2 separate regions of the Homo sapiens genome follow, and region 2 is linked to region 1. Evidence: fine-mapped expression QTL. A gene starts in region 1. The other region holds a variant in brackets. All regions are shown on one strand. Distances are between the middles of the regions.

Region 1 (10,825 bases):
GTCAAATGGTTTCACCAAGCAAAGTAAAATTCTTAAGCAGTCTAAGAAACACTTAGTAAAATGTATCAGAGGAAGGCTCCAGATCCAACTCAACAAGTAACCACTTCCCCCTGCTATAGCTCATTCTGAAAAGTCAAACTGGGAAACACTGCTATTTTCAGTGTATATCAAGCCATTAGTAAGCAAAACTTAAACTATTCCAAGTGACAAAGCATTGTCATAGCCAAAACCGCAGAAAATAATAGTAGAGCAAAATTAAAAACGTAAAGTAAAATTTTAGACTTTTACTGGATGACACACTCAATACACTTCTATGGTGATGAATTATTCCTAGAGAGAATCTAATTAAAAAAGAGAAGAATATGACTCATTTAATTAATATCATAACACCCTTTTCAGCTCTGGAAGACAGAAAAGTCAAAGCTATACATTTTAATAGGTCCCACATACTCAAGCTGTCACTTGTGTTCTTAAAATATTGTCAAAGGCTATGCCTTGTCCAAAAGAATGTTGTTACCTTATGAATTTGCTGCAGATTTATATATCCTGCTTTAAACATAAAGAGGCAAGAGTCTGAAATGATGTAGAACATAACCTTGGTATAAAGAGTCCCTGGAAGGAGGTCATGTATAATTAGAGATTGCTTCTTTGGCATCCAATTCTGGATTTCTCATGGAATATGGTCTAAAACATTTATTTTAAAAATATATTTTCAATGATCTTTACCTTTATTTCAACCAGTTTAATGCTAAAATATACCTGTTCACTGAAGCAGAACAGTGTCAGGCGCAGTCACGCATGCAGTCTGTACCATGCATCACCTCAATGTGGCAGTTTTGCTTCTGGATAACTTCCTACTCGCATTCAGCTCCTCCCCAGCCAACCATTAGCCCACTCACCCTTACTCATGCCTAGATGTGTAAATGATTAAAAAACAATAAAGCAATGGACTACTGATGCAGAGGGTCAAACTACGGAACCCAGAGGTACCACAGATTTACCAACTCTAAGCCTCCATCTTCTCATCTATAAAACAGAGACACTGGCCGAGCATGGTAGCTCACGTCTGTAATCCCAGCACTTTGGGAGGCCGAGGTGGACGGATCACTTGAGGTCAGGAGTCTGAGACCAGCCTGGCCAATATGGCAAAACCCCGTCTCTACTAGAAATACAACAATTAGCTGGGTGTGGTGGTGCACGCCTGTAGTCCCAGCTACTTGGGAGGCTGAGTCAGGAGAATCCCTTGAACCCAGGAAGCGGAGGTTACAGTGAGCCAAGATTGTGCCACTGCATTCCAGCCTGCGTGACAGAGCGAGACTCCGTCTCAAAAAAAAAAGAGATACTGATATCCTCCTTCATAGGCTCATTATAAGGTTTAAATGAGATAAAAAGTATAGAACCAGGAGATTAGCATGTAGTAGGTGCTCAGTGATGGTACCTGTCCCAAACTTTCTTCCATTCCTCATGGTTGGTACAGCCAGCTTGGAGTCACCTCTGTCCTTTCCTCCTTCTGCTGCTCCCCCTCCATCTATATAATCCAACACTTCTGCTTCTTTGGCATGGCCAAGGCATTGGTGGAAGAAACTGATGATATTTGTCCAAAGTTTTAGATTTATTGCTACCCTGCTAATTGCTATCCTGATAACTACAGGCAAAATTACAATTTTCTGTAAGTTTTTTTTTTTGAGACGGGTCTCACTCTGTTGCCCAGGCTGGAGTGCAGTGGTGTGATTATAGCTCACTTCAGCCTCAAACTTCTGGGCTTTTTTTTTTTTTCCATAGTGATGAGGTGTCACTATGTTGCCCAGGCTGGTCTCAAACTCCTGGGCTCAAACGATCCTCCCACCTCAGCCTCCCAAAGTGCTGGGATTACAAACATGAGCCACCATGCCAGGCCAATTTTTTTTTTTGAGTAATATATAGTCAGCCCTCTATATCTGTTGGTTTCACATCCATGGATTCCACCAACCAAAATATAATATTTTCTATTTTGAAATATTCAAAAATATTTTTAAAAAATTGCATTGTACTGAACATGTACAGACTTTTTTCTTGTCATTATTCCTTAAACAATAACAGTATAACAACCATTTGCACAGCAGTTACATTGTATTAGGTATTATAAGTAAGCTAGAGATGATTTAAAGTATATGAGAGGACGTGCATAGATTATATGCAAATACTATGCTATTTTATATAGGGACTTGAGCATCCAATGACTTTGGTATTTCTGGGGATCCTGGAACCAAGACCTCATGGATATCAAGAGACAACTATCCTTGGTTTCTGAATTTTTTTTTTTGGAGGCAAAAGGCTATTACTCTTAACTTTTTTTCAAAGTGTAGAAATTAATAATTTAGAGAATAGGGTTGTATAGTGTTCCTGTTTAGCAATTACACTCATAAAGTTACTTTATGAATAATGTATCATGGGAAGGGTAGCATATCCATTATTGACTATATATACATTTTTTTAAAATTAAAACTTGTTACTTTAACATTAAATATGCTAACAGTATCTAAGGCAATTCTTTAAGCCAAAGTATTCCTAAAAGGGAGTTTCAGAGTAAACATAGGCTTTGGATCTTATCGCTAACAATTATAGAACATGAACATTAGCTCTCCTGCGTAAAATATTTTAGACAGATATATATATTGAACATAGAAACAGAGACAAATAAAAGCTAGTCATAATTTAGACTTCATCCCTGCTAAGACTGTTTAGCTTATGTTAAACCTCTATTTCTTTGTTTCACCTACCATTCCCGGGCGAGCTTCTTATAAGCCTTTTTAATATCAGCCTGACTGGCTGTTCGGCTGACCCCTAGGACTCTGTATGGGTCAAAATCCAACGCAGACAGAATTTGCAGGATCAGAACCAGAACTATCAAGAACTGCCAGGAAATGCTCAACTTTCTCACTTCCATTTCTCTTCCTTTCCAGAGCTGAAATGATTGAAGAGGCAATGAGTTTCAGTGGCAGAAACCTGGACAGTCTTGCTTTTTAGGTAAAGGTATAAGATATATAGATGAAAAACAAAACCAACAAAAGGTATTTTGCAGGAAAAGTGTCAAGCTGTTGAACTGTATCTTAAAATAAAAATCTCGCTACTGCTTTTGAATATCACAAATGAGAACTATTACAGATGAAAAGATGAGTAATAAGAATAGCAACTCTCCAGAACACTTTGACTAGAAAAGCTTTAGAAATGAATGAAAATGAATGGGATGCAGAAATAATACATAAATGAGAGAAAACCTAAATAGGATAATCAGGACGACTACCTCTCAAATACATGATTTCATTTATTCTGATAAGAATAAATAAAATAAATGGTTTAAGAATACTTCATTGAGTACATGTTAAACAAACTCATGAAACTGTAAGATTTACCATGTACAAAACTACAAAATGAGATAGTTGTGGCATTCTTGGGCATTAAATAAGTACAAACATGGACGTGAAACACTCTCAAAAAACTGTGTAGTTAAGACGCAGTATGCCTCAATTCTATTCTTTCTCACCACACCATTCAAACAAGAAAATGAGAAGCTGCTCTTTAATCATTAGTAATATGGTGTTTTTTTGTTTTTTTTTTTTGAGACGGAGTTTCACTCGTTGCCCAGGCTGGAGTGCAATGATGGGATCTCAGCTCACTGCAACCTCCCCCTCCCAGGTTCAAGCAAGTCTCCTGTCTCAGCCTCCCCAGTAGCTGGGATTACAGGCATGCGCCACCCTGCCTAGCTAATTTTTTGTATTTTTAGTAGAGACAGGGTTTCACCATGTTGGCCAGGCTGGTTTTGAACTCCTGACCTCAGGTGATCCACCCGCCTCGGCCTCCCAAAGTGTTGGGATTACAGGCGTGAGCCATCGCGCCGGCCAATATGGTCATTATTAATGGAAACCTCAGATGAGAAAAAGCGGCAAGAAAAAATTTAGTTTTACATGTGAAGAAGAATTAACGGCAAAGACCAAATAGCAGGCGTGGTCTTTAAAAGTTTCAAGCTCCATCTCTGGTGAGTACAGTGACTTAATTCATTGTGAATTTTGGAAATAATCCTGGCTGGTTAATGAACAGGGTAGTGCTGGAACTGCAGATATTTATACTCCACAATTATGATTGCTGTTATACCCTACAATGTTTTTTTTCAAGGAACACATTTATCTTGATTTCTCACAAGTTAATACAGTTTTAAGGTTCAAGTGTCTTCTGTGACACCTTACTGAAGAAGGGCAAAGCTATAACAGTGGTGGATTTCCGTAAGTGCAAGTTTAATGCCGCCTGGGAGTCCTCACAAAATTGACTAATCTGATGACCAACGTTTAAAATTGCATACGTGCTGAATAAAATCCTAAAACAAACCAGTTTCTTCTTTGTTAAGGCAACCTATTATATCCTAGAAAACACGTGAAGGCAATGTAGCTACTGGTTAAGCATATGGGTTGAAGACTAGGATCTATTCTCCACTACTTTATTACCTTGGGCAAATTATTTAAACTTACTAAGCATCAGCGTCCTTATTCATAAAATGGGAATGAATACTACCACCTTGAAGGATCATCATGTGGGGACTAAATGCATGTAAAGGGTTTACTGAGCCCAGAGTCAACAGTCAACAAATGGTCGTTAGTGCTATTATTTCTACCATGCAGTACGATCGCTGCCTTATTTAACCATGTCAGTTCCTTCCAGCTAGAGGGCCGAAGTGGCGGTGGTCTGGGAAGTTCTTTAGCTGACATGCGAGATAGACGGCGCCGACCTCGGAGCAGCAAACACCTGCCCAACAGGTAGGCTGCCAGCTCTCTGGGCAGCATATCCAGGACCAGGAAGAAGCTCCCAGAGACAAGCTCCAGGTCTAAGCCCCGCCTCGCGCTCCTGCCGGAGGTCGCAACCCTGCAGGAGACAGCCCCCTCCCCCGCCGCCCTCCGAGAGCCCAGGGCCCGGCCCTGTTGGCTCCCGGCTCCCCCCGGGGCCAGCAGTGACTGGAAACGAGAAGGAACTGAGGGGAAATCCCTGAGTCGGCCTGGCCCCGCCGCGTCCGCGGTTCCGCGCGTCACGCCGGGAAGGAGTTACCGGGAAAGTACACCGGCCCAACCGGCTGCAGCTCCGTGCTCCAGTTAGTTCGCCGGGCCGGGAGCTTCCCGTCCACACCAGCGCTCGCCTGGGCCTGGGGAGGGGAAAGAGGAGGGGACAAGCCCGAGGGGAGTCACGTGACGCTTAAAGGTCTATCGCACTGAAGGCGAGGACCGAACAGGTCGAGGGCGTCTACTGGGCGAATCTATTTTGACCCTTGCCACTCGCCGTCTAGGCGTGGACCTGGGGTGGTTGCTATAGAAACGAGGCGCGCTCTTTGGTTGCAGCCAAAAGGCTGATCGTGACCAAAGAGGCCAAAACGTGCCTCCTAGCGAGGCGAAGTCGCTATGCATGATGGGATACCAGAAGGACCTCCTCGATCCAGGAAGGTGTTTCCGCTCCTACCGGGAGATGGCCCTCGTCTAGCAACAGTTGCTAGGATGGGGACGCACTCTCTGGTCCCTATTCTCTTTAACCCTATTCGTAGAACCTTAGAGCGTCAGATTGGAAGTGACCTTAGGGATTCTTTAACTCTCCAACTCCTGCAATATTGATAGGGAGACCGAGGTCCAGAGAGGGGCAGAGATTTGCCCAAGGCCTAGAATCCAGCATTCCTTTTATTTTTGTTTACTTATCTTTTTTTTTTTTGAGAGAATCCAGGACTTTTAATCCCGTTTACCGAAAACCGAGCTCCACCCAAGAATGTACCAGTCTGTGCCTTAAGCACGGGGAAAGGGCGGTGGGGGTGGAGAGAGGGATAAGGCACAGGTAAGTGAAGGAAACTTTCTTTGAGCCAATGAGATAGATCCCTTGCGGATATAAAGAGCTTTCATATCTCCCTGTCTTGTTTTTATTTTTTTCTCTTTGCATTTATCACTATCTAACATAGTATGTCTTATTTATTGATATAGTTTATCACCTGATCCTTCCACTGGAATGTAAACTCTAAAAGCAGGGATTTTGTTTTGTTCACCTTCATGTTCTTAGTGTTTGACTACAGGCTCAATAAATATTCGTAGAAGTGAACGAATGGGGCTGAGGTTTTGGTGCTCAAGAGATTATATTCTAAGGTGGATTCTTAAGAGTGTGGCTTACAGAGTCAGGTTCGGGTTTCAATCCTGCCTGCCTCGGCCACTTAGTACCCAAGTGACCTTAAACATTCGTTTCCCTGAACCCTAGGGTCTACATCTGTAAAACCGGCGGGGGGTGGGAATACTTTCCTGGCAGGATTGTAGTTAAGGATAAGTGAAATAAGCATGAAAAGTGGCTAGCACGATGCCTGGGACTTAGCAAATGCTCAGTAAACAGAAACGATTATTTTTGAAATGTGAAAATGAACCGTTCAGAACGATGGGAGTTTACAGGACTAGATTTCTGCCGTTTTTTTTTTTTTCTGTGTGGGAGGTGTTAGGGTGGGAGGGAGGGAAGAGGGAATGGAAGACTGTGTAAGGTGGGCTTGGTTGGATCAGACACTCGAGTTTGGAACAGTCAACTGCGATCTGGGCACAAGGGCGGTGAGGGGAGCTTATGGTTTTACTTGGGGTGGAGGAGGGGGCTAAGGGGAAGCCATGCCCCGGAGGAGGTTGAATGGGCGGGACAGATCACGGCTCCACTCATGGTTTCCCTCTTGCTGGAAGTGTGACGACTCCCTCCGGATCTCTGTAAAAGCGGGGCTATAGTGAATTCTGGCGAAGGGCCCGCGGTGGACCAGGAACTGGTGCCAGAATTGCAAAAGGGCACCTGCGCCCGGAGTGGGGAGGTGATGCGGGGGCGGGGCGGGGCCCTGGGGGCGGGGCGAGTCGCGGAGGTGCCGCCTTGGGGCGGGGCGGTGACAGAAGGATGGATCCTGGGGGTGAGGATTGACTTTGGGGGCGGGGCGAGAGTGCGAACTGGAGTCTGAGGCTGAGCGGTGACGCAAGGACGATTCTGAGGGTGGAGCGAGGGGAGGGGATTGGCTCTTGGAGGCGGGGCGGTGGCACGAGGCTAGCCCTTGGGGGCGGGGCGGTGGCGCAAGATTGACCTTGGGGGCGGGGTGGGGGCGTGGGTTGAATCCTGGGGGCGGGGCGGTGGCGCGGAATGGATTCTGGGGTCGGCGCGAGGCGCTGAGGTGCGTCCTGAGGGCGGGGCGATGACGCAGAGCGAATCCTGGGGGCGGGGCGAGACCTTCTAGATGCGTCCCGGGGAGTGGGCGGTGACGCGGTGGCAGGTTCTGGGGACAGGCGGTGACCCCAGAATTGACCCTGGGGACAGGGCGAGGCGCGGAGGCGTCCTGAAGGCGAGGCGGTGACGCAAGAGCGAATCCTTGGGGCGGGGCGAGGCGTTGGAGATGCGTCCTGCGGGCGGGACGGTAACGCGGGGGCGGGGCGGTGACGTGAGGTCAGTGCGGGGATACGGGGCGGGTTCTGGGGCGGGGACGCAGTGGTGGATTCTGGAGCGGGGCGGTGACGTGGGGCGGGTTCTGGGGCGGGGCGGTGACGCGGAGCGTGTTCTGGGGCGGCGCGGTGATGGGAGGCTTGGCCCTGGGGGCGGGGCGAGGCGCAGAGGTGCGTCCTGAGGGCGGGGCGGTGACGCAAGAGCGACTCCTGGGGGCGGGGCGAGGCCTTGGAGATGCGTCCGGAGGCGGTGGGGAGCGAAGACTGACCCGGGGCCGTGACGCGGGGGCAGGCCCTGGGGCGGGGGCGGGTCCTGGGGACTGGGGCGGGCGGCCGAGGCCCGGAAGCGGACTGAGGCGGCCTGGAGTCTTAGTTGGCTACTCGCCATGGACGAAGCGGATCGGCGGCTCCTGCGGCGGTGCCGGCTGCGGCTGGTGGAAGAGCTGCAGGTGGACCAGCTCTGGGACGCCCTGCTGAGCCGCGAGCTGTTCAGGCCCCATATGATCGAGGACATCCAGGTGCGCCCCCGGCCCCCTGTCCCCGCGCTGCACGGCCGGGTCCCCACGCCCCTCGAGGAGGCGTTGTGCGGGAGCCTAGCCTTCCCTGTGGCTTCAAACCCCTCAGCGGAGCCAAAGAATCCCAAACACCTCTTAGTCGGGTGTTCGCTAAAGCGATTCCATGCCATACTCAGTCAGCGTACACTGTTAGTGCTTGTGTTTCTTGTGTAAAGGAAAAATGTGAGACACATCTTGAGAACTTTGAATAAGAAACAATTCATGAATTGGAGAACATCAGACTGAAAGAGCTTTAGTGTTGCAATGACAAAACGTCAGAGGCAAGTATTTATTGGGAAAATGTGGAAGCAAAATAAAGAAATTATTTGATTGGTTTGCAGTTACAAAATTGCCTTTTTTTTTTAAGGTCTGTTAATTGACTGCTTTTGGCTGGTCTTAAGTTTTATTTCTCTCTAACATAAGCATTTATCAGATATGACCCAAGTTAAATTTTGCTTATGTTTGCAGTTTAAGCAAGATTTAGGTCACTTAGGATACCTGATTGGTTTTGTCTGCTCAGGAATTCTTCATGGTTGGTCTCCATTTTAATTTACGTTAATACTTGCGAGGAAGGAGGCGTGTGCGTTTTTACTTTTCTAGCATAGAGGTTTCGGGAACCCACTTTGGCATCAGGCTGCCTGGCAGCGTGTTCTTGGGCCAGTCACTTACCCTCTTTGAGCCACAGTTTCTGGGCTGTGAAATGGGAATAAGAATAATACTGTCATAAGGACTAAATGAAATAACGGATGTGAAACTGTAGTGCTAGGCACAGAGCGGGGGATCAGCGTACCCTGCCCTCTTTGGCCAGCCCCTTCTGTGTTCAGTTTATGTTTTGTTAAGAGGTTTTGGAAATGAGGGGACCTGATGCAGAATGGAGAATAATGAAGTCAAACATTTGAGGTTTTGTTTAAAAGCACTTTCCCATCTTTGTCTCATTTGACCCTCATCACAGGCCTGTGAGGATGCAGGAGATATTTCCTACCATGAGGTGCAGTAGGTGTGAGTGGCTGGCTGGATATCCCTGGCCAGTGCCCTGGCCCAGGGAAAGAGTCTTTAAATAATTGAGTATCATATGAGTAATTATTCATTAATAATAAAATAAGTTTTGTGCCTTCTGTGTGGCCCCTACTGGGGAACAGTAATGGTTTGAGGCCACAGTCCTTGCCTTCAGGAATGTTCACGGGGATCACAAACTCAAATGCCCATGGAGGACCAATGGATGGGCGTCATAGTGGATAGCCTTTGCACTGCCCTCCGTCTCCAGCTGAGTATGGCCATATCAACAAATGGCCCAGTATTGCCACATCTTACACTTATTTTGAGGCAGGGTCTCACTCTTGCCCAGCCTGGAGTGCAGGGATGAGATCATGGCTCACTGCGACCTTGACCTCCTGGGCTTAAGTGGTCTTCCTGCCTCAGCCTTTAGAGCAGCTGGGACTTTAGGCACATGCCACCATGCCTGGCTAATTAAAAAAAATTTTTTTTTTGTACAGATAGGAGTCTTGCTATGTTGCCTAGATGAGTCTCAAACTCTTGGCCTCAAGTGATTCTCCTGCCTCAGTGTTGGGATTACAGGTGTGAGCCACTGTACCCGGCCCAGCTTTCACATCTTAAAAAAGAAGCTGAAAATCTTGATTCCTCTGTCAAATTCCCTGGCTTAAAATGTTAGCAACAAATTCAGAAATTTTTTAAGAACCTTGTGGGAACCACAGGTTGCCATTTTGCCATTCAGTATGGCTGAAAAACAGGCAGGTTTTGGAACCAGTTGGATCTGGGCTCTCATCCTGGCCTTGTTACATATTAGCAAGTTGTAAAAAACCACAACCAATGAGCCAAACAAACAGAAAAACCCTATGACTCAGTTTCCCTGAAATTTTTTACCCTAAAAAGTTGGGAAGTTCTAATTTAACTCTATAAAGTTATTGAGGGAGAAAAAGATGAAACAATGCATTTAACACAGTGTTGACCTCCTGGAGTGTTCAGCAAATGTGGAGAGAAACCTAAACACCACCATCTATTTGCATGTAGCCAACTGTTCTGCTAGTGAGACTTACCTTCTCAGTGGCACTGTAGGTCTGTGCTGTTCCCAACAGTAGCCATTAGCCACATGTCGTTAAAGGTAAATTTGAAGTAATTAAAATTAAATAAAACTAAAAATTGGTAGGGTCAAGCCTTACAGGGCCTGTGGGTTTTTCTCCTCGTGTGCGGAGATGAGAGATCGTAGAAATAAAGACACAGGAGAAAGAGATAGAAAAAAAGACAGCTGGGCCCGGGGGACCACTACCACCTAGACGTGGAGACAGGGTAGTGGCCCCGAATGCCTGGCTGCGCTGTTATTGGATATAAGGCAAGGGGACAGGGTAAGGAGGGTGAATCTTCTAAGTGATTGATAAGGTGAAGCAAGTCACGTGATCATAGGACAGGGGGCCCTTCCCTTTTAGGTAGCTGAAGCAGAGAGAGAAGGCAGCATATGTCAGCGTTTTCTTCTATGCACTTATAAGAAAGATCAAAGACTTTAAGACTTTCACTATTTCTTCTACCGCTATCTATGAACTTCAAACAGGAACCAGGAGTACGGGAGGAACATGAAAGTGGGCAAGGAGCGTGACCATGGAAGCACAGCACCACAGGGAGGGGTTTAGGTCTCCGGATGACTGCGGGCAGGCATGGATAATATCCAGCCTCCCACAAGAAGCTGGTGGAGCAGAGTGCTCCCTGACGCCTCCAAGGAAAGGAGACTCCCTTTCTTTTTTTTTTTTTTTTGAGGTGGTGTCCCACTTTTTCGCCCAGGCTGGAGTGCAATGGTACGATCTCAGCTCACTGCAA
Region 2 (10,825 bases), 55 kb before region 1:
CAGAGTAACAGCAGAGGAAATGAGCAGAAGGCTTGGGGGCAGGAAACCATCAGGACTTCTTAAATTTGGGGGCGTAGAGCAGGATCAGAGACAGGGAGGTGGAAAGTCGCTGGCTGAACTTGCAGCCCACCCCAGGTGCTGTCAAGCATCCAGGTCAGGGTTAGAAATTGGTCGCCTGGAGCTCAGGGCTGGGATTTGGGCTTGTGGTTGACCTGCCTATGGGTGAAAGTCATCACCTCCGTATTAAAAGGGATTGCCAGCCGAGAAGGAGCCACGAAGGTGGAAGGAGACCAGGGGAGTCCCAGTCAAGAGGCCGCCTGAGGAACGTTTCAAGGAGAGAGGGTGCTCAGCAGTAGTGGATGTTGGGGACACCTCATTGGAACGCCTGGCACATAGCGGACACTCAATATTTGTGAGCTGAATGAAAGAAAAACCCGGAGTAAGAACATGATACATTCAGGACAAGCAACATGAAAGAAATAGCAGTTGAATTTGGGAGTCAAGAGAATAACTGAGACCCTTTAAGTGGCATAAGGGAGAAAAAAAGGAAAAAATAACTGAGAGATTGTTGCATTTGTTCCAGAAAATGGCTGGGACCTGCCCCAAGGCCAACACTAAGCACTGATAATTGACCATTAGGAAACTCTGTCCCGACCTGCAGAGTGGAGGCTCCACTCCAGAGTGGAGGCTGGAGTGGTGTGGGGTTTAATGTGCAACCTTTTTTTTTTTTTTTGACAGAGTCTTGCTGTGTTGCCCAGGCTGGAGTGCAGTGGCGCGATCTTGGCTCACTGCAAACTCCACCCTCCCGGGTTCACGTCATTCTCCCGCCTCAGGCTCCCGAGTAGCTGGTACTACAGGTGCCCACCACCACGCCTGGCTAATTTTTTGTATTTTTAGTAGAGATGGGGTTTCACCATGTTAGCCAAGATGGTCTCATCTCCTGACCTCATGATCCGCCCACCTCGGCCTCCCAAAGTGCTGGGATTACAGGTGTGAGCCACCGCGCCTGGCCTAATGTGCAACCTTTGTGTAGAGGTTGCAACGTAAATGCAAATGTGAGCCTTTTCCATTCAATCTCAACATTTAGAGATCAGAAAAAATAATATATATAATACTGCTAAATGGCTCACATAATTCCATTACAAATCACTTCTTTCTTTCCACGTGTGTTTTTCTTTCCCCTTAGAAATAAAGAGGATGTAACAGGTTCTCTGGCACTGTGACCTTCCTTACAGCTTGCCTGTAAGTCCTTTATTTATTTATTTATTTATTTATTTATTTATTTATTTATTTTTGAGACGGAGTCTTGCTCTGTTGCCCAGGCTGGAGTGCAGTGGCCTGATCTCAGCTCACTGCAAGCTCCGCCTCCCGGGTTCATGCCATTCTCCTGCCTCAGCCTCCCAAGTAGCTGGGACTACAGGCACCTGCCACCATGCCCGGCTAAATTTTTGTACTTTTAGTAGAGATGGGGTTTCACCGTGTTAGCCAGGATGGTCTCGATCTCCTGACCTCGTGATCCGCCCGCCTCAGCCTCCCAAAGTGCTGGGATTACAGGCGTGAGCCACCGCCCCTGGCCTCTAGTCCTTTTTTAACAAGGTTATTTAAAAAGACTTTACTGGCCAGGCGCGATGGCTCACGCTTGTAGTCCCAACTACTCGGGAGGCTGAGGTGAGACGATTGCTTGAGCCCAGCAGTTTGAGGCTGCAGTGAGCTATGATTGTGCCACTGCACTCCAGCCTGAGCAACACAGCAAGACCCTGTCTCAAAATAACTAGCTAGCTAGCTAAGTAGCTAACTAACTTTACTGCTTCTTGAGATTCCTATCCCTGGACATTTAAAAATACATTATTTAAAAAAATGCATTTCCTATTTTTCTGGCTTAGAGAAAGATCATTTTCCTTCATATCTTTCTGGCTTTAAAAATATTACTCTGGGGTGGCTGCTGTGGCTCACACCTGTAATCCCAGCACTTTGGGAGGCCAAGGTGGGAGAATCACTTGAGTCCAGAAGTTGGAGACCAGTCTGGGCAACACAGTGAGACCGTCTCTATAAAAACAAACAATTACTCTGAATGGGAGAAGAGGCTGCTGAAGGCCACAGTGGGGAGCAGGGCGCAGACACCCCTGGCACAGTGCCGGCCAGTGGGCACCCCCAGCCTGACTCTATTTGCCAGAGGCTGAAGTCCAGAGGGGTTGAGGGGAGAGCACGGCAGGTCCTGGGGCCCCTCCCCCGCCTTGATCCTAGGGCGCCCCTGACCTTTGAGCCGGCTCGGGTTCCGGCTCTGGCGCGTGCACACTCGCCTCGCCGTTCGGGACCAGCCAGATCGCGGCGGCCTCGCGGGCGGTTTGGTCGGTGAGGTCTTGGCCGCGCGCGGCAATGCTGAGGCTGCTGGCGTCCGGGTGCGCCCGGGGCCCGGGGCCCGGCGTGGGCGCGCGTCCTGCCGCAGGGCTCTTTCATCCGGGGCGCCGCCAGAGCCGCCAGGCTTCCGACGCGCCCCGGAACCAGCCCCCCAGCCCCGAGTTCGTGGCCCGGCCGGTGGGCGTCTGCTCCATGATGCGCCTGCCGGTGCAGACCTCCCCCGAGGGGCTGGACGCTGCCTTCATCGGGGTGCCCCTGGATACTGGGACCTCCAACCGGCCTGGGGCGAGGTAAGGCCGGAAGGACGGGGGCCGGGTACACGTGGAGGGACTGCTTGCTGGCTGTCGGGCATGGAAAGCACCGAGACAGGCGCCCCTGCTGGCCCCGGGTCGAGTTGGAAGCTGGTGGCCGGCTCCAAAATGCCCCTTATGGTTTGAGATGGTTGATTTACCTGGACCCTCAATAAGCAAACCCCAGGGCTCAACATGGGCGTGGCCTCCCACATCTTAGTGTCATCATTGGTCAAGAAGGGATTTTGGCCGGCCCGGTGGCTCATGCCTGTAATCCCAGCACTTTGGGAGGCTGAGGCGGGCGGATCACGAGGTCAGGAGTTCGAGACCATCCTGACCAACATGGTGAAACTCTGTCTCTACAAAGGTACAAAAAAAAGAAAAAAAAAGCCGGGCATGGTGGCGCGGGCCTGTAATCCCAGCTACTCGGGAGGCTGAGGCAGGAGAATCGCTTGAACCCGGGAGACGGAGGTTGCAGTGAGCTGAGATTGCGCCACTGCGCTCCAGCCTGGGCAACAGAGTGAGACTCCGTCTCAAAAAAAGAAAAAAGAAGGGATTCTGGAGCCTGAACCTTCTCTGTGTCCCCATCCTGGGGCCTTGCTGGGATGGCTGCTGTGGATTCCTCCCCTCTCCTCTCCCCAGCTTACAGTGGCAGGTGACATTGCATTTGAGAGCAGAAACTGGCTGCCCCTTCCCCAAATCTGAAGATGTCACCTGACTCAAGAAATGCTCAAATGAAGGCAATTTTCCTAGGATCAAGTCGGAGGAAGCAAAATTCATCTTCCTAGTTATTGAACGTCAGCAATTTCTGATTCAGCTCAGCAACACTATATCTGACCGTACTGATCTGAATTATGAAAGCCAGCACTTATTAAATGTCTCCTAAGTGCAAGGTGCTTTGCATAGATTACCTCATTTAATTTTTACTACAGTGCAAGGTAAATATTTTACAAATTAGGAAACTGAGACTCAGGTAGATCATGAAATTCACTAATGCCATTTAGTACACTTATTTAGTCTCTTCGATACATAGCCTAGATCGGTGATTCTCAAGTGGGGCGGTTTTGCACTCCGGGGACATTTGGCAGTATCTGGAGGCGTTTTGGGTTGTTACACCTTGGAGGAAGGGTGCTACTGGCACCTAGTGAGTACAGGCCGGGATGCTGCTAAGCATTCCATTATGCAATGCCGCGACACGGAATCATCTGGCCCCAAATTGCTGAGGCTGAGAAGCCCTGGCCTAAGCAAAGCCTGAAATCTCTGCAGATGATGGCTGACAGGATGATTCTTCCTTCTGCAGATTCGGACCTCGCCGCATCCGGGAAGAATCAGTGATGCTTGGGACAGTCAATCCTAGCACGGGGGCCCTCCCCTTCCAGTCCCTCATGGTTGCAGACCTAGGCGATGTGAATGTCAATCTTTACAACCTTCAGGACAGCTGCCGGCGAATTCAAGAGGCCTATGAGAAAATTGTAGCAGCTGGCTGTATTCCTCTGACCTTGGGTAATGTCAGTCTGCAAGAGCCAGAGTAGTTCCCTGCACTCAGGGTTTACTTATCCTGTACTCAGGGGCTTGAGTACAGCTACTTCTCCCCTGCAAGCCACTGCAAATGTGCAGACAGTAGGAAAGAGAGCATTGTAATTCATTTATTTTAATCCCTGGGGAGAGAATATTTCACGTGTGTGTGTATGTGTGTGTGTGAGACAGTCTCACTCTGTTACCCAGACTGGAGTGCAGTGGTGCAATCTCGGCACATTGCAACCTCCACTTCCTGGGTTCAAGCAATTCTCCTGCCTCAGCCTCCCAAGTAGCTGGGATTACAGGCGCCCACCACCATGCCTGGCTAATTTTTGTATTTTTGGTAGAGTCGGGGTTTTGCCATGTTGGCCAGGCTGGTCTTGAACTCCTGACCTCAAGTGATCCGCCCACCTTGGCCTCCCAAAGTGCTGGGGTTACAGGCATGAGCCACCGCGCCTGGCCAAGATGATGTTTCTAATGACTTTATTTGCGAGGAGAACTGCAAAGAGGGTGTTTTTGTCCTGCTCAGGGTCTACATCAACCTATAGGGCAGCTTTCCCCTTATCCTCACCCCTGACCCACTCTCACTTTTTCTCTTGTTCACAAATACTTAAAATGACAGGGATCTTTTCCTAAATATCCAAATTCATTTTTGCCAAGTTAGAGAGCCTAGCCTGCATGGCATAGTGGGAGGAGTGTGGTTTCCCGATGGCATGGTTTGAAGTCTCAGCTGCACTTCTCCCTAGCAATGTTGCTGTATACCGTGCTTGATGCTTCACACCCTCACCTGTAAGATGGGAATGATCACAGTAACACCTACTCACTGCATGATGTGAGGGGCATATAATGAAAGTGCACATGAAATGCCCAGCATCAAGCATGGCATATCTTTTTTTTTTTTCTTTTTTTTTGAGACAGAATTTCACTCTTGTTGCCCAGGCTGGAGTGCAATGGCACGATCTCGGCTCACTGCAACCTCCGCCTCCCGGGTTCAAGCAATTCTGTCTCAGCCTCCTGAATAGCTGGGATTATAGGCGCCCGCCAGCATGCCCGGCTAATTTTTATATTTTTAGTAGAGACGGGGTTTCATCATATTGGTCAGGCTGGTCTCGAACTCCTGACCTCAGGTGATCTGCCCACCTCGGCCTTCCAAAGTGTTGGGATTACAGGCGTGAGCCATTGCGCCCGACCTATGCATGGCATATCTGAAGCTTCAATAAATGTTAACTGTTATTATTATCAGAAAGAATACTTTCCTAGGTCTGTGCTGTCCAGTAAGGTAGCCACTAGCCACATGTGGCTACTTAAATTCTTTTTTTTTTTGAGACAGAGTTTTGCTCTTGTTGTCCCGCTTGGCTCACGGCAACCTCCGCCTCCTGGGTCCAAGTGATTCTCCTGCCTCAGCCTCCTGAATAGCTGGGATTACAGGCGCGTGCCACCACGCCCAGCTAATTTGTTGCATTTTTAGTAGAAATAGGGTTTCAACATGTTGGCAAGGCTGGTCTCGAACTCCTGACCTCAGGTGATCCGCCGCCTCAGCTTCCCAAAATGCTGGGATTACAGGCGTGAGCCACCACGCCCGGCCTAAATTCAAATTAATTAAAATAAAATATTCAGTTTCTTAAGTCATATTAGCTACATGTATGTCACATGTGTGTCACATGTGGATAGTGGCTACCATATGGGCCAGTGCAGATAGAACATTGTCATCATCATAGAAGGTTCTATTGAACAGAGCTATTCTAGGCATTTTCCTAGAATACT[G/C]TGAAAAGGCAATTCCTAGAGTAGCTCTTAACTTGTCTAATTTCCTCTTTTATTTATTTATTTTTGAGACACGGTCTCACTCTGTCACCCAGGCTGGAGTGCAGTGGTGCCGACATGGCTCGCTGCAACCTTGCCCTCCCTGGGCTCAGGTGATCCTTCCACTCCAGCCTCCCGAGTAGCTGGGTCTACAGGCGTTTGTCACCATGCCCAGCTAATTTTTGTATTTTTTGCAAAGACGGGGTCTTAATGTATTACCCAGGTGGACCTTGAATTCCTGGGCTCAGGCGATCTGCTTGTCTTGGCCTCCCAAGGTGTGAGCCACTGCGCCTGGTCTATTTTTATTTTTATTTTTTAGAGACGTGGTCTTGCTGTGTTGCCCAGGCTGGTCTCAAACTTCTAGGCTCAAGCTATTTATTTATTTATTTTATTTTATTTTTTGAGATGGAGTTTCACCCTTGTTGCCTAGGCTGGAGTGCAGTGGCGCGATCTTGGCTCACCGCAACCTCCGCTTCCTGGGTTCAAGTGATTCTCCTGCCTCAGCCTCCAGAGTAGCCGGGATTACAGGCATGCGCTACCATGCCCGGCTAATTTTGTATTTTCAGTAGAGACGGGGTTTCTCCATGTTGGTCAGGCTGGTCTTGAACTCCCAACATCAGGTGACCTGCCCGCCTTGGCCTCCCAAACTGCTGGGATTACAGGCATGAGCCACCGTGCCCAGCAAGCTATTCATTTTTTTGAGATAGTGTCTTACTCTGTCGCCCAGGTTGGAGTGCAGTGGCACGATCACAGCTTACTGCAGCCTTGACCTCCCAGGCTCATTCAGCATCCTGCCATTCTATAAGATCTTACTGTAGCTGTGGTTATAACTCCCCCCAGGCTGAAAGGGTGAAAATTGAGTTAAGATTATTCAGCTGGGCATGGTGGCTCATGCCTGTAATCCTAGCACTTTGGGAGGCCAAGGCGAGTGGATCACTTGAGGTCAGGAGTTTGAGACCAGTCTGACCAACATGGTGAAACTCCGTCTCTACTAAAAATACAAAATTAGCCAGGTATGGTGGTACACACCTGTAATCCCAGCTACTCGGGAGGCTGAGGCAGGAGAATCGCTTGAACCTGGGAGGCAGAGGTTGCAGTGAGCCGAGATTGTGCCATTGAACTCCAGCCTGGACAACAGAGCAAAACTACATCTCAAAAAAAAAAAAAAAAAAAAAAGATTATTCTATGTAATCCTCCAATTCACTTTCCAGATGTTTTCTTCTTCCTCTTTGCAGGTGGAGATCACACAATCACATATCCCATATTGCAAGCGATGGCAAAAAAGTAAGTCTCAAATGGCTTGGGCCCAGCAAGATTTCAAAAGCCAGAAGCTAGGGAATGAGTTATTTGCTGTTTGGTGGCATTAGGTGACTGCTGCTGGCTCAGGTTATGAGCTGCTTCTGGGGATCAAAATTAAGGTTGAGCTCCAGGTGTCTCTGTCAGTCAGCAGCTAGAAGCCAAGACAATTTATTATTAACAGTTCTGGCCACCCTCCCTTGCCCTAGATCTCTCCTGGTATGTGTGCTCAGCATTTTCAACTTGCTTCTGTTTTTGGAAGATGAGCCTCTAGTGAAATACACAACCTCAGTTAACTTCAGTTTCTGTTTTGCTTCAATGGCCAAAAACAAACACTGACAGGCACAATGGTGGACCTTGCTGAGAGGCCCTTGTTTCCTCCTGAAAGGGCACCTTTCTCAATCAAAAGACTGATTTGCCAGTAGTGGAAGTCTACCCAGGATTGGCCGACTTTGGCTAATTTAGTTTGAGAAAGAGACAGAAGGACCCGGGTGGAGGGTGGCAGCTCCAGAATGTGTCTGTGGAAGCACATGTGGGTGGCATTCTGGTTGGAGGTGGGAGGGTGCAGGTCTTTGCTCAAAGCTGCATTTATTCCTCACGGATTTGGATCAGATGTTTATTTTGGGTGGCTGGCAGGGGTTGATGGAGGTTATGGAGAGAGCTGGATTAAAGCTTCCTCTTCCTCGGTTGGAGAAAGGGTGTGTCTTGGTTTAGTTAAGCCTTCAGCCAAGCTCCCCTGTGCCACCACCCTTGATTCTCATCCTGTCTCTAAGTGAAGCAAATTCTGGGTGATAGGTGTGGGTGGCAGCCAAAACATGTCTATTTCCTGCCTGACTTCTGTGAGTTTATTGTTCCTCTGAGATGCAAAGTGATCTCAAGAAGACAGGAACCAGTTGCAAGGCAGAAAACGGATGCCAGGTCTCCCCTTTTTGGCTGTGAATTGTCACCAAGTTTTGGTGGCCCGAAGGGTGGCTGTGCTAGGGCCCCACAGGGAGGGTTGGCCTCTGAGCTGCCCTGTTGTCATCAGGCATGGCCCAGTGGGGCTGCTGCACGTGGATGCGCACACGGACACGACCGACAAGGCCCTAGGAGAGAAGCTCTACCACGGGGCGCCCTTCCGCCGGTGTGTGGATGAGGGTCTCCTGGACTGTAAGCGTGTGGTGCAGATTGGCATCCGGGGCTCTTCCACGACCTTGGATCCCTACAGATACAACCGGAGCCAGGTGACAGACCGAATGCCCCCCACCCTTGCCCCTCAAAATGTCTTCCTCTCCGTTGCCTCACCAGTGGCAGCCAGGGATTGAGCGGGGGCTTTACTAATCAAGTCTGAAGCAGGGATACAAGGCTGAGTTTGCATCATCAGGGGCATAAGGAGCATAGGAGTGAGGAAGTTGGTTTATGGGCCATGGGAAGTCTATCGCTGGGCGGGGGAGACAAGCAGAAATCGACCAACCCCTCGGACGGTGCTGGCTTAGAAGAGGGGAGGAGGCCGGGCACAGTGGCTCACACCTGTAATCCCAGCACTTTGGGAGGCTAAGGTGGGTGGATCACCTGAGGTCAGGAGTTCGAGACCAGCCTGGCCAACATGGTGAAACCCCGTCTCTCCTAAAAATACAAAAATTAGCCAGGTGTGGCGGTGCGCACCTGTAATCCCAGCTACTCGGGAGACTGAGGCAGGAGAATTGCTTGAACGTGGGAGGTGGAGGTTGCAGTGAGCTGAGATCGCGCCACTGCACTCTAGCCTAGGTGACAAAGTGAGACTCCATCTCAAAAGAAAAAAAAAAGAGGGGAGGAAGTCCGGACCCAAGATGAGTTGCCACCTTCTTAGTTCTGGTCCTCGTACCCTCTAGGCAGAATGGCTCTCAGATAGACGTGTATGACAAGACCCCAATGGAACAGACCCAAATCCCTTGCTTTTAGAGCGTGCCAAGGCCAGTCTTCTGGACAGAGCAATTCAAAAGGTGCTAGCGTGAGCTGCTGTTTCCCACTCTTGCTTTAGCAAAGCTTCTCTCTGATTCCAACTCCATCAGTCAGCTTTGACCCTGCTTCCTTACCACTCATTGTCCCTCCCTTCCTCACCTGTAAAATAGGATAGTTCCCTCTTCATGGAGATGGAGGGTCAAGTGTCATGTGCACACAGAGCTGAGCATGGGGCTGGCAAACAGGAAATGCCCTGTAAATGCTGCCAGACAGAAACCTCAGTCCCTGTCTCTGCAGGGCTTCCGGGTAGTCCTGGCTGAAGACTGCTGGATGAAGTCGCTGGTTCCTCTGATGGGGGAAGTCAGGCAGCAGATGGGAGGCAAACCCATTTATATCAGCTTTGATATTGACGCTCTGGATCCTGCCTATGCGCCAGGGACAGGGACACCTGAAATTGCTGGTCTCACTCCTAGTCAGGTAAGGAGATTCCACCAGTGAAGATCCTGGGGGTGGAGACACTTAACACCCATTTTCCTGGGACTTGAAGCGAATCTTTAGGAATCAGGATAGGATTTTTGTTTGTTTGTTTGAGACGGAGTCTCACTCTGTCGCCCAGGCTGGAGTGCAGTGGTGCGATCTCGGCTCACTGCAACCTCCGCCTCCCAGGTTCAAGCGATTCTCCTGCCTCAGCCTCCTGAGTAGCTGAGATTACAGGCACATGCCACTACGCCCGGCTAATTTTTGTATTTTTAGTAGAGATGGGGTTTCACCATGTTGGTCAGGCTGGTCTTGAACTCCTGATCTCGTGATCCACTCACCTCGGCTTCCCAAAGTGCTGGGATTACGGGTGTCAGCCACCGCGCCTGGCTGCCAAGGTAGGATTTTAAGAGCAGAGCACCTAGGCCTTTTCTGTTCTCTGGGCTGAGGATAAGTTTGAATACCCTCTTACTGAAGGGTGATTGATTTTGGCAAGGGCCTTCATTTCCTATCTGGGATATAATAGTCCCTTATTTTGTCCTTTATTTGCTCTTCCTGCCTTCAGTTCATCTGTCATGAAAACAACAGTTCATAGGAACAACATTATAGTATCCTCTCTTAAGAACACTAAACTTGGCCGGGCACGGTGGCTCACGTCTATAATCCCAGCACTTTGGGAGGCTGAGGTGGGTGGATCACGAGGTCAGGAGATCGAGACCATCTTGGCTAACACGGTGAAACTCCGTCTCTACTAAAAATACAAAAAAATTAGCCGGGCGCGGTGGCGGGTGCCTGTAATCTCAGCTACTCAGGAGGCTGAGGCAGGAGAATGGCATGAACCCGGGAGGCAGAGCTTGCAGTGAGCCGAGATAGAACCACTGCAGTCTGGCCTGGGCGAAAGAGTGAAACTCCATCTCAAAAAAAAAAAAAAAAAAAAAAAAAAAGAACACTAAACTTGGCCAGGTGTCGTGGCTCACGCCTGGAATCCCAGCACTCTGGGAGGCCGAGGCGGGTGGATCACAAGGTCAGGAGTTCGAGACCAGCCTAGCCAAGATGGTGAAACCCTGTCTCTACTAAAAGTACAAAAATCAGCCCGGCACGGTGGCAGGCGTCTGTAATCCCAGCTACTTGGGAGGCTGAGGCAGGAGAATTGCTTGAACCCTGGA

Direction of the effects. Positions count from the first base shown, and alleles are read on the strand shown. Sizes are in standard deviations (SD) of each study's normalised expression.
For the expression in atrial appendage of the gene that starts at base 5,184 in region 1, G is the low allele of the variant in region 2 and C is the other (small effect, 0.20 SD a copy in GTEx).

What was found. PIP is the estimated chance that this variant, and not a neighbour inherited with it, causes the effect.
Region 2: its variant is fine-mapped to the expression of DNAJC16 in atrial appendage (GTEx, PIP 0.94).

Annotation. Positions count from the first base shown.
Region 1 is chr1:15,521,207-15,532,031 of GRCh38, reverse strand. It overlaps DNAJC16 (DnaJ heat shock protein family (Hsp40) member C16), which reads right to left and starts at 5,184. Exons shown (of 15, transcript NM_015291.4): 1 at 5,074-5,184; 2 at 2,760-2,944. The coding sequence starts at 2,926. CASP9 (caspase 9) reads left to right here and starts at 7,817. Exons shown (of 9, transcript NM_001229.5): 1 at 7,817-7,963. The coding sequence starts at 7,832. RefSeq lists silencers at 4,720-4,819, 4,744-5,038, 5,160-5,299, 6,738-7,177, 7,458-7,847 and enhancers at 5,410-5,509, 5,025-5,528.
Region 2 is chr1:15,576,519-15,587,343 of GRCh38, reverse strand. It overlaps AGMAT (agmatinase (putative)), which reads left to right and starts at 2,293. Exons shown (of 7, transcript NM_024758.5): 1 at 2,293-2,648; 2 at 3,949-4,151; 3 at 7,202-7,250; 4 at 8,290-8,485; 5 at 9,480-9,659. The coding sequence starts at 2,377. RefSeq lists a silencer at 2,311-2,640 and an enhancer at 2,751-2,800. The variant G/C (reference allele first, on the strand shown) is at 5,931.